Linked DNA regions of Homo sapiens: region 2 is linked to region 1. The links come from fine-mapping of genetic effects on gene expression. A gene starts in region 1. The other region holds a variant in brackets. All regions are shown on one strand. Distances are between the middles of the regions. Region 1 holds the start of TDRKH (tudor and KH domain containing). Region 2 holds the start of MRPL9 (mitochondrial ribosomal protein L9).

The links.
Region 2: its variant is fine-mapped to the expression of TDRKH in whole blood (TOPMed, PIP above 0.99).

What each region holds. Positions count from the first base shown.
Region 1 is chr1:151,788,250-151,793,628 of GRCh38, reverse strand. It overlaps TDRKH (tudor and KH domain containing), which reads left to right and starts at 3,129. Exons shown (of 13, transcript NM_001083965.2): 1 at 3,129-3,249. It overlaps TDRKH-AS1 (TDRKH antisense RNA 1), which reads right to left and starts at 2,880. Exons shown (of 2, transcript NR_146292.1): 1 at 2,384-2,880. RefSeq lists a silencer at 3,185-3,444.
Region 2 is chr1:151,761,934-151,767,312 of GRCh38, reverse strand. It overlaps MRPL9 (mitochondrial ribosomal protein L9), which reads left to right and starts at 3,817. Exons shown (of 7, transcript NM_031420.4): 1 at 3,817-3,986; 2 at 4,167-4,323; 3 at 4,813-4,937; 4 at 5,158-5,208. The coding sequence starts at 3,834. It overlaps OAZ3 (ornithine decarboxylase antizyme 3), which reads right to left and starts at 658. Exons shown (of 5, transcript NM_016178.2): 1 at 425-658; 2 at 14-150. The coding sequence starts at 591. It also overlaps a transcript of TDRKH not described here. RefSeq lists an enhancer at 3,667-4,046. The variant T/C (reference allele first, on the strand shown) is at 2,660.

The DNA of each region.
Region 1 (5,379 bases):
TTTACACCAAAATAAATTCCAGATGAATCAAATATTTACATATACAAAGACACTATCAAAGTACTTTTTAAAAAAACATAGGAGCTTTAAGAATAATCTTAAATAGTGGGAGACTTTACTAAAAATTATATGAAACACAGAAGTTGGCCAGGCACAGTGGCTCACGCCTGTAATACCAATACTTTGGGAGGCTAAGGCGGGTGGATCACTTGAGGCCAGGAGTTTGAGACCAGTCTGGCCAACATGGCAAAACTACTCCGAGTCTACTAAAAAATACAAAAATTACCCAGGTATGGTGGTACATGCCTGTAATCCCAACTACTCAGGAGGCTGAGGCACGAGAATCTCTTCAACCTGGGAAGCAGAGGTTACAGTGGGCCAAGATCATGCCACTGCACTCCAGCCTGGGCGACAGAATGAGACTCTGCCTCAAAAAAAGAAAGAAAGAAACCCAGAAATTATCAAAGAAAATATTGATAAATTCAATTACATAAAAATTTTTAACATTTGCAAAGAATAACCATAAACAGGCTGAGGGCAATGGCTCAGGCCTGTAATCCTAGCACTTTGGGAGGCTGAGGCAGGCTGATCACCTGAGGTCAGGAGTTGGAGACCAGCCTCAAAATATGCAATATACATAGAACAAACTTGGAAAAGGGAAAATACTTGTTATATGTATAAACAATATACATAGAACAAACTGGGAAAAGGGACATACTTTTTTTTTTTTTTTTTGGAGATGGGGTCTCGCTCTGTTGCCCAGGCTGGAGTGCAGTGGCAATCTCGGCTCACTGCAACCACCGCTTCCCCAGTTCAAGTGATTCTCCTGCCTCAGTCTCCCAAGTAGCTGGGATTACAAGCGCTTGCCACCATAACCGGCTAATTTTTGTATTTTTAATAAAGACGGGGTTTCAGCATGTTGGCCAGGCTGGTCTTGAACTCCTGACCTCAGGTGATTAGCCTGCCTCAGCCTCCCAAAGTGCTGGGATTACAGGCGTGACCCACCACACCTGGCCGGGGAAAATACTTTTAACTTATATACAAACAGCAAGTATTAAGAAATGACCCTATAACCAATAAAAATATGAACAGAATATAAAAACAGAGAATTTACAAAAAAATTGCCATTTAAATATATTAAAAGATGCTCAACTTTACTTATAAGAGCAATGAAATTTTATCTTGCAATGAGATAGCATTTACACTATCAGATTGTCAAAAATCAGGAAGTTTAACAGCACCAGTGTGCTATCAAACAGGTTCTTTTCATACATTGCTGACAGGAGACAAAATTGGTAAAATTTCCAGGGAAGGCAATTTGGTAATACTAACTAAAATCATTTTCAAAAATTGCTGGTGGGATTAAAATTATAAAAATCTTTGTGGGAGGAAGGGAATTTACAAAATTTTATCTATCCAAATGAAAAAACAATGCACACATTTCTTTAACTTGGCACTTGCATTTCTAAGTATTTATCATACACATATGCAAGAGGGAAATGAAGTATCCTTGCATATCAATCAAATGTTAAAGGACTGGTTAAATATATCTTCATATATCCCTCAGGCATACTATGAAACTATCACTATGAGGCAGATACGTATATGCTGCTACGGAAACATTTCCAGACTGTATCAAAGAAAGTTGCAAAATAGTATGTATGTTATCAACTGGGTTAAAAAAATATATGTGTGTGTATATATATATACACTTTATATATTACACATATACACACGTTAACTATAGAATATCTTGTGAAATTTTTCACAAGAAACTGGTAACCCTAGTTGCCTTGAAGGAAGGAAAATTTATTCACTATAATAACCTTGTTTCTTCTGAATTTTGTAGAATGTAAATGTATTACTTATTCAAAACGCATACACATTTTTATATTAATAGAAAGCAAAACCTGAGGCCCAAAGGCATCTGCCTAATTGACAAAAGATACAACCTTGCGTTCTTTCAGCAAATATTTATTGCTCATCACCTGCCAGGTATTGTGATGGAAGCTAGTGCGGAAGATCCCCCAATGACCAGGATCGCCCGACCCCTGTTCCCAGGGTGAGCCCCTAGCGCGGAGCGGGGACAGGGTGGACCGAGTAGGGCGCAGTGCTGGTCTCGCGAGGCTCCCTGCCCCACGGAGGCAGTAGCAGGACCCAACCGTTCCTAACCGTCCAGGGACCAGGACAGCGTCTGGAATAAAATCTTCCAAAGCAAACTTCCGCCTGCGGAGACCCGCTCCCTTCCTCGCCCCCACAGAAACGCCCCCCGCCACCACCCCCTCCCCCGGCGTAGGCCTTCACGCTGTCGCCTCGACCCGTTTCCTCGAATCCCCAGGGAAGGGTGGGCCCCTGGCGCCCCTATGGCCCGCCGCCCCCTTACCACCGCGGTCGGAGCCCGGGTCTCACTCTCCTGCCGCTGTTTCGGGCCACACCGTGTGTCCGTGCCTCCGCAAAGGAATAGAAGAGTGGGTCCTCGCTCTCTGCGGCGCACCGCTTGTCCCTTGACTTCCTGTCCATCTACAAAGCCTATTTCATGTTTTCCAGAAAGAAAACGTTTTCCGTGTCTCTTGAGTCCTCATCGCCATATGCGGGGCGGGACCGATCTATGCAAAAGATCGCAAGAGAAAACTGATGGAGCATCGCCCATCATGAGGCTGCTCTCCCGATGGTCACTGAGTTGTGTTGTGGCACTGTCTTTGTACAAAGACACCAATTTTTGCGAACGGTGCCACTCATGATTCAACGCTCTCATGCCTCGGTCCCAGCTGCTGGAGCGCAGATTTTCCTCCAAGGGTTAGAAGATAGAAAACTCCTCGGTAATTGGCCTAGAGGTGGTCTGCGAGGACGCCGGGAAGCTTGTAATTGGCTGTTTAATTCTCAGCAGGTGCGGTCTCAGTTAACAACATCTGCTTTTCCTGGATCTTATTGGCTGACAGGGTGGGCCTGCTTTGGATTCCATCCGGGTAATTGGGCAGCGGCTAGCAGCAGCCACGTCGCTCAGGGGCAGCCCGCGGAAGGATTGGTTGTGACGGGAGAAGGCGATTGGTCGGACTGCGAGCAGGGTGTTGATTGGTGCTGTCGGGCTGCGGGGGCGGGGAAGTGGCGGCTGAAGCGCCGCCGGCGGGGCTCACTGTGGTGGTGTGAGTGGGAGGCGGCGGCGCTGGTGGCTGCAGCTGGGGTGAGGCGCGAGGCGGCGCACTCGACGGCTGACTGGAGCAGCGGTAAAGGCGAGGATGGAGACCGAAGGTTTGGGGAGTGGGAAAGACAGGGTCATGGGCAGCCCTGGCCACTAGGAGACGGAAATGCGGGAGCGAGGGAAGGGAGGGGTCTGGCGTGCCCCGGGGCGAGGGAAGGATGTGGGGCGCAGCGGGGGAGTCAGAGCCCTGGGCTGTGAGACGCCGCTCGGGGGCAACTTGACCCACTGGGAACTCGTAACTGTATCTGAGGAAGATGCTCCAGTCACCCGCTTACGCCACAACGGACCCGGTGCGGGAGCGTTTGTGTTTGCCCTGAGTCAGTTCAGACTCTTCCACTGGGCCTTTTTGAGACTGAGAGCTGCCATCCGTATATCACTTTGCCTTTAACTTTCCCCAGCTTTTTCTTTAGTTATCGCTAATAGGATGGCTGTTTACAGTCGTCAGAATAATACATTGGGGTTTTTGTTTTTCCAGTATCCCTCATTCCTTAATCCAGGTATCATCGTGGGGGTTGGCTGGAGACCCCTATTTCAAAGACTGACTTTTAGACCCTTTCCTTGTTTTGAGAGAAAGGGGTTGACACTTTTTTTTTTCTCGTGAATTTAAAATAAACGTACCAAGGATGAGAACATTGAGCTGCTTCGATTCAAGCATGTCACCATGTTGTAGGTTCTTTGTAGGTTCTGGTTATTAGGAGATACTGGAATGAGTTATCTATGCTTTCATGGAGCTAACAATGTGATTTGACTTCTCATCACATCCTATTTGACTCCTGTCATTTTAAATGATAAAGTAAGCCTTAGCGATGCATATCAGATAGTTTTTGGCAATTGTTCAATACAAATGTCAGGAAATTTCAAAGTTAGCTTTCACTGAAAACCATTATCTAACCACATTCCTCACTGAACAATGATCCTCATCTTCTCTTCTTAGCTTCCCCTAGAAACTGTGGTCTTAAGTTCTAGTATTTTCCTCCTTCCCATTCAATTTTTAAGTAATAAAATCAAACACAAGCTAGCAGTCAGTACTATGCAGTTATCCCCGTTTACATTATATTATTTTCCATTTCTCTTTAAGAGAAACTTATAGCTGAAAGGATATGAAAATTGTGAACAAAACCATAGTGACAGATCAAGTAGAGTCTCATTTTTTGAGACATCAGCTGATAACTCAATTAGCACAAATTCATTTGTAATGTTTGAAGAGGAGTTAGTGAAATTTACCTTTTGCTTCAAATAGAAGTCGGCCAAAACCGCACCTATAATCTCAGCTACGCCGGACGACTGCGGGAGTTCAAGGCTGCAGTGAGCTATTATCATTCACTGCATTCCATCCTGGGTGACAGACCAAGGCTCTGTCTCTAAATAAACAACAACAAACTCTCCAATTCATCTGTTCTCCATCTCCATCATTGACACCTGGACTAGGCCCTGATTGGTCTCCTGCAGCCACGGTTGCTGCCTTCAATTCATTCTCCTCACCACGGACACAGATGTTAATCAAGAATGACAAGCATGGCATGTGTTATCAAGGGATATTGGGGATTCTGTGGAAACCCATAGCAATGTAATTCAACCCAGTGTAGGGGGTCGAGATTGAGGGGCCTTGGCTGCAGAGACCCCTCTGCACTTGATCTTGATAGTGTCAGAACTGGAAAACAAAAGTGCTGCTAGTCCTTTGGGCCTCTGTAAAGAGGTGTGATTATGACTGGCCATCAAAACAGACTTATTTCTATTGCACACTGTATTGTGTAGAAATGACTAATGAGCTGTGTGATCTTAGATCAATCCTTTTCTATCCCTTAGCCGCAGTTTCCCAAATTGCAACGTTATTAATGGAATCAAATAAGTTCTGTAGTCCCTTCTAGTTATAAAATCTTGTGATTTCTATGCCCCATAAGCATCAATTATGGCCAGTTTTTAAAAGCAGACAGCATGAAAATACAGATCCAGTTTATTCTTGTTCACAGGGCTAGATTTCAGTTTCCCAAAGCCCTTAAGACCTAAAGACTCCTGCCTGTCAAGATCTTCCTTGCCAGACAGGAAACTCCATGAAGGCAGCTGCCAAATCTATCTTGACTGTTGTGTCCCGAGGGTCAAGCACACATCAGAATTCGATATTTATTGGCTTGAATAAATGTCCATTTAGTGCAGTTCATTCATGTAGTATAGGTTTGCGG
Region 2 (5,379 bases), 26 kb after region 1:
ACAGTCCACTTACCGAATACAGTTCTTTAAGCTGGTCGTGGTTACCCTGCTCGGTGCTTTTGCCCTCCTGGAGGCCTACTAGGGACTCAGGAGCACTGGAGGCAGGAACGGGGCTGGAGTGTCAAGTCCTCCTCTTCCTTATAAGTGATGCTGGTTGGGAAAGAGACCCAAATTAGTTTATCTTGGAATCTGAGGTGGGAAGATACACAGTACCAGGCTCTGGCATGATCTTCTGTATTTTCTGTTGTCCAGCCTGTTTCTATGTTCCTGGGCCCAACCAGATGGAAAAATTCTAAAGTTCCATGCCAGCTTTCCACCCCCTATTCTGTTGTTATTTCTTGCCATTTGGGAAATTCTTTCAAATTCTTTTACTTTTTCCTTACATTTTATATAAACAACTACAAATAGAGATGAAAACAAGTACCTTTTATAACAACGAGGCAGCATCTTCTCCCGGAGAGTGATCCGGTACTTGTAACAGTAAAGGTAATAGGCGTATGGTGACCAGATCGGGTAGAGGTAGTTACGTGTTTTTCCCCTCTTGATATAAGAAAGGGAGTAGACAGAGGGGCGACACCTCTTACAAGGCAGTTTTTCAGTTCAGTGCCTCCCTGTGGCAAAGTGAAGTTCACAGGTGGGTGGCAGAGGTTTAGGCAACCTGGTGGCATTGTGACCCAGTGGGCACTATGACATGGATAAGGGGTCAGCCCTTATGTCACCTCAGGACTCCACTCTGCTGCTTATCTACCCTAATCCCTTATCCAAGGCTCATATTCGACTAGTATGCATGTTATGGCTGTATGAATGATTAAAAAATAGAACTTGAAGACTTCTGTACTGGTTGGCCAAAAGCCCTGCCTGAGCACTTGTGCCCACCCACCCTGCTCCTCTGTGGACACTCCCCTTCCCCCAAAATCCAGCAAGTAAAGAGTTGGTATCTGACTCTTCCAAGGCTCTGATCCAGTGGTGACCTGATTAGTTGGTTCCCAGTTCATACCAGTTGAGTATTTTTATTATCATCCCTACCCTTAATAACCCAGGATCCTTGTAGGGTAGGAATTGCAAACTAATTGTCTAGGCCCCTTCAGGGGCCTAGACAGCTTATGGAAATTAGTGGAGTGGCAGGGTAGGGCTGTAGCAAAATAGGAAAGCTCACACGTTATCTAAAGGAAGTCCACACAACTCAATTCCATCCAGTTCCATGCAAGAATGCAGACTTGATGGTGCTGTATCGTATGATTTTTGAACAGAAACTGGAAAGACAGTTTTGTAGTAAATCTCACCAATTTTAAAAAATATCGACTACTGGGCCGGGCACGGTGGCTCACGTCTGTAATCCCAGCGCTTTGGGAGGCCGAGGCGGGCGGATCACGAGGTCAGGAGATCGAGACCATCCTGGCTAACACGATGAAACTCTGTCTGTACTAAAAATACAAAAAATTAGCCGGGCGTGGTGGCAGGCGCCTGTATTCCCAGCTACACGGGAGGCTGAGGCAGGAGAATGGCGTGAACCCAGGAGGCGGAGCTTGCAGTGAGCTGAGATCGTGCCACTGCACTCCAGCCTGGGCAACATAGCGAGACTCCAACTCAAAAAAAAAAAAAAATCAACTACTAAAAAATTGTTGATAAAAAAACAACATTGTAAGCAAAATTTGGTTCTGGGACTGCCACTTTGAGACCTCTGCATATTTATCCATTCAACAAATATTTATTGAGGGTCTACTATTAGCCAGGCACTATTCTAGGTGCTTGAGATGATACATCAGTGAACAAAACAAATCCCTGCCCTATGGAACGTATCTTCTAAAAGTGAGAGGACAAACCTAGAAAATAAACATAGTAAATTGTTTAGTATGTTAGAAGGTAACTGCTATGGGGTGGGGGGAATAGAGCAAGATAAAGGAAGATAAGGAATGTGAAGGGGATGGGTCAGGGTTACAGTAAGAAATAGGGTGATCTCTCACTGAAAAAAACTGACATTTAATTAAACACTTGGAGGATGTGAGGTTGTTAACCAAGCCAGCATCTGAGGATAAGAGCATCCAACGCAAAAGCAGCCAGTGCAAAAGCCCTGAGCAGGAAACGTGCCTGGTGTTTTCAAGAAACAAGGAGGCCACTGTGGGTGGAGCAGTGTAAATTAGAGAGGAGCTAATGGGGTCAGAGTATGTATGGCCTTGTAGACCATCTGATGGCCTTTTTCTTTTACCTTGAGTAAAGGAGGAAGTCATTACAAAGTTTTGGGTGGAAGAATGACATGATCTGACTTATGCTTTAAAAAGATCATTCTGGCTGCTATAAATAAGCTACATAGAATTATAAACTGTAGAGAATTAAGGGATATCTTTTAGGGGACTATTGCAGTAATCCAGGAGAAAGTAGTGTCTTATTCCAAGGTAGAGCATTGGAGGTGGTGACAAGTGGCTGGATTCTGGAAATACAAGTGCTCCTTGACTTAAAATAGGGTTATGTCCTGATAAACCCATCGTATGTTGAAAGTATCATAAGTTGAAAATGCATATAATACACCTACCAAACACCATAGCTTAGCCTAGCCTATCTTAAACATGCTCAGACAACTTATCCGACAGTTGGGTAAAATCATCTAACACAAAGCCTATTTTATAATAAAGTGTTGAATATTTCATGTAACTTATTGATG[T/C]CCTACTGAGTGCACATCACTTTCACACCATCACAAACTCAAAAATTGTAAATCCAAGTCAGGGACTATCTGTAATTTAAAGGTAGAACCCACAGGATTTCCTGATGGAGTATGAGAGAAAAGAGTTAGAATGGAAAGAATGGAGTTTCTGTCAACTGAGAGGAAAAAGGCTGCAGATGGGGCAGTTTTGGGGGCGAGGGGGGAATAAATAAATTAGTTTGGGACAGTTAACTTTGAGGTGTCCTTTGGATACGTAAGAGGAAAATGACGAATAAACAGTTGAATATTTGAGACGAGTTTGGGAGATGTCTAGGATGGAACTAGAAATTTGGGAGTCATTGGCTTATAAATGGTATTGTAAGCCACGAGACTGGATGAGATCAACAGTGAGTGTATACTGAGAAGAGTAAAGGTTCAAAAACGGAGTCCCGAGGGCATTCTAAGAAGCGGGGAGAAAAGGAGAAATCAGCAAACGAGACTGAAGAAGACCGGTGTCCAGGAGGCCAAGTAGTGTATTTAGGAGGAAGGAGGACTGGTCAGTATGTTTAAGGGCCAGTCTTTCCATAATCTCTGCCAAATGGACCTTCTTTCATCCAGTTTTTATGGTCTTCTGTCCAGTACTGAGACCCTCCCCAGAGGGAACTGTCGCGGCCTTACCATAGTTGCTTTTTTTTCTACGGTTTACATAGCTTGTGATTTAGAATTCTCCTTTATTAGCTTAAATACTGCAGTATAATGATTAAGGGTCAGGCTCCTCCTGGAGCTGGCAGAGTTTTCCAAGGGATCCCATCCTTTACCACTTTTAGGTAGATTTGAAGTAAGGAAAAGTGAGAGCATCATTCATTCTCCGGTCAGTATCCAGTCATCACAGAACGTTAGAATTAAAAGTTAGCCCAGCAACTGGAGCTACAGCAAAGCCCACACTTTCAAGAGGAAGAGCGTCTTTTCCGGCGTCAGTCCACCTAACACTCATTCCATTATCAGTCAGTAATTCTAGGCGTCCGTCACCTCTGCCAAAAAGCAAAAATAGGCAAGCCGCGGTGCCATCTGTTCCCCGGCCCGCTCCCCATACTTTCGCTCAGCCGTACCGGCGCGCCGCAGGCAGCACTGGCGGGGGCCTTTCCTGCCGCCGACGCCGGGGTCCTCCCTCAGGTCTCATTCTGTGCCTGTGAACATGGCGGCGCCCGTTGTCACGGCCCCGGGCAGAGCTCTGCTGCGGGCGGGCGCTGGACGGCTGCTTCGGGGAGGCGTCCAGGAGCTACTGCGGCCGCGACATGAAGGGAACGCCCCTGACCTGGCCTGCAACTTCAGCCTTTCTCAAAATCGGGTGAGGGCTGAGTCTGGGGTAGGGGGTAGATACGCTCGAGTATTGTTTCTGGAGGCGCACTGGGACCTGGAGGGGGCCGATGTGGGGGTGGCGGGCTTTCCTTGAGGGGCTGGCGGCCGTGGTGGAGGGAGAGGGTGTTCCTTGTGGAGACTAGCTTACCGTCGCTTTCCTGGCCGCCAGGGCACGGTCATCGTGGAGCGCTGGTGGAAGGTACCGCTGGCCGGGGAGGGCCGGAAGCCGCGCCTGCACCGGCGACATCGCGTCTATAAGCTGGTGGAGGACACGAAGCATCGGCCCAAAGAAAACCTGGAGCTCATCCTGACGCAGTCGGTGGAGAGTAAGGCCCGGGCCGAGGCGCTTCCTCTCAGGCTGGTCCGGTTTGGCATCAGCTTTTTCTAGCCCGTCCCCCTCAACTATTTGCCTTGCTTTTTCTTTGTGGAAACAATCCAACTCTATATGTGAGAAGAGGAAGCCATAAAAACTATTGTGATTGTGACACTGGCCTCCAGCATTGAAAATTAAAACATAAAGGCAGCAACATCATTAACAGTGTGTGGGGAGAGGAGCCTGACAATTTGTGCCACAGATACTGAAATCCTCCATGGGACGACAACTCCCTCTATACAGGGGATATTAAATTTATACATCAAGTTCTAAAGAAACTAATTAGCAGTCTCTTAAATCTTGTTCCTAGTGAATATGAATTAGCATTTCTTTTAGGAAAAATAAGCACTGTGAGAAACTAAGAGGTGCTTCTCTTTTTGACATCTTTTCTTTAGGGACTCCTAGATGGTTCTAATTCCCCTGTCTCTGTTCTAATTGACAGATGTTGGAGTCCGGGGTGACCTGGTCTCAGTGAAGAAATCTTTAGGCCGGAATCGACTCCTTCCTCAGGGACTGGCTGTATATGCATCCCCTGAAAACAAGAAGCTGTTTGAAGAGGAGAAATTGGTGAGCTCAAAGGAAGGACAGAGAGACTTGGGGAGATAAAACTTCTTTTCTCTTGCAGCTTCCTTCCCTTTGACATTTAACTTAACTTGAAAATGAAATAGGAACTAGAAGAACAGGAATGCAGAAGCCCAGCCAATGTCCAACATAGGAATAGTTTGATGCTATTTAACATGGGCTCATTTTTCTTTTACTGCTTTTCATCTTTAACTTTCTTTTCTAGCTGAGACAAGAAGGAAAATTAGAGAAGATCCAGACCAAGGCAGGTGAGGCGGTGAGTAGAAACATAAAAAGTGTTTATTTGTCACAAGACTTACCAACCTCACCCTGAGAGTCTCCCTGATTCCCTTGAGGTCTCCTGATTGCAGACCCAAGAGTGGGAGAAAGGGGAAGTGTTGTGGCTGCCCCACAAAACAGGTATGGAGACCTCTTGGGAGATCCCTGA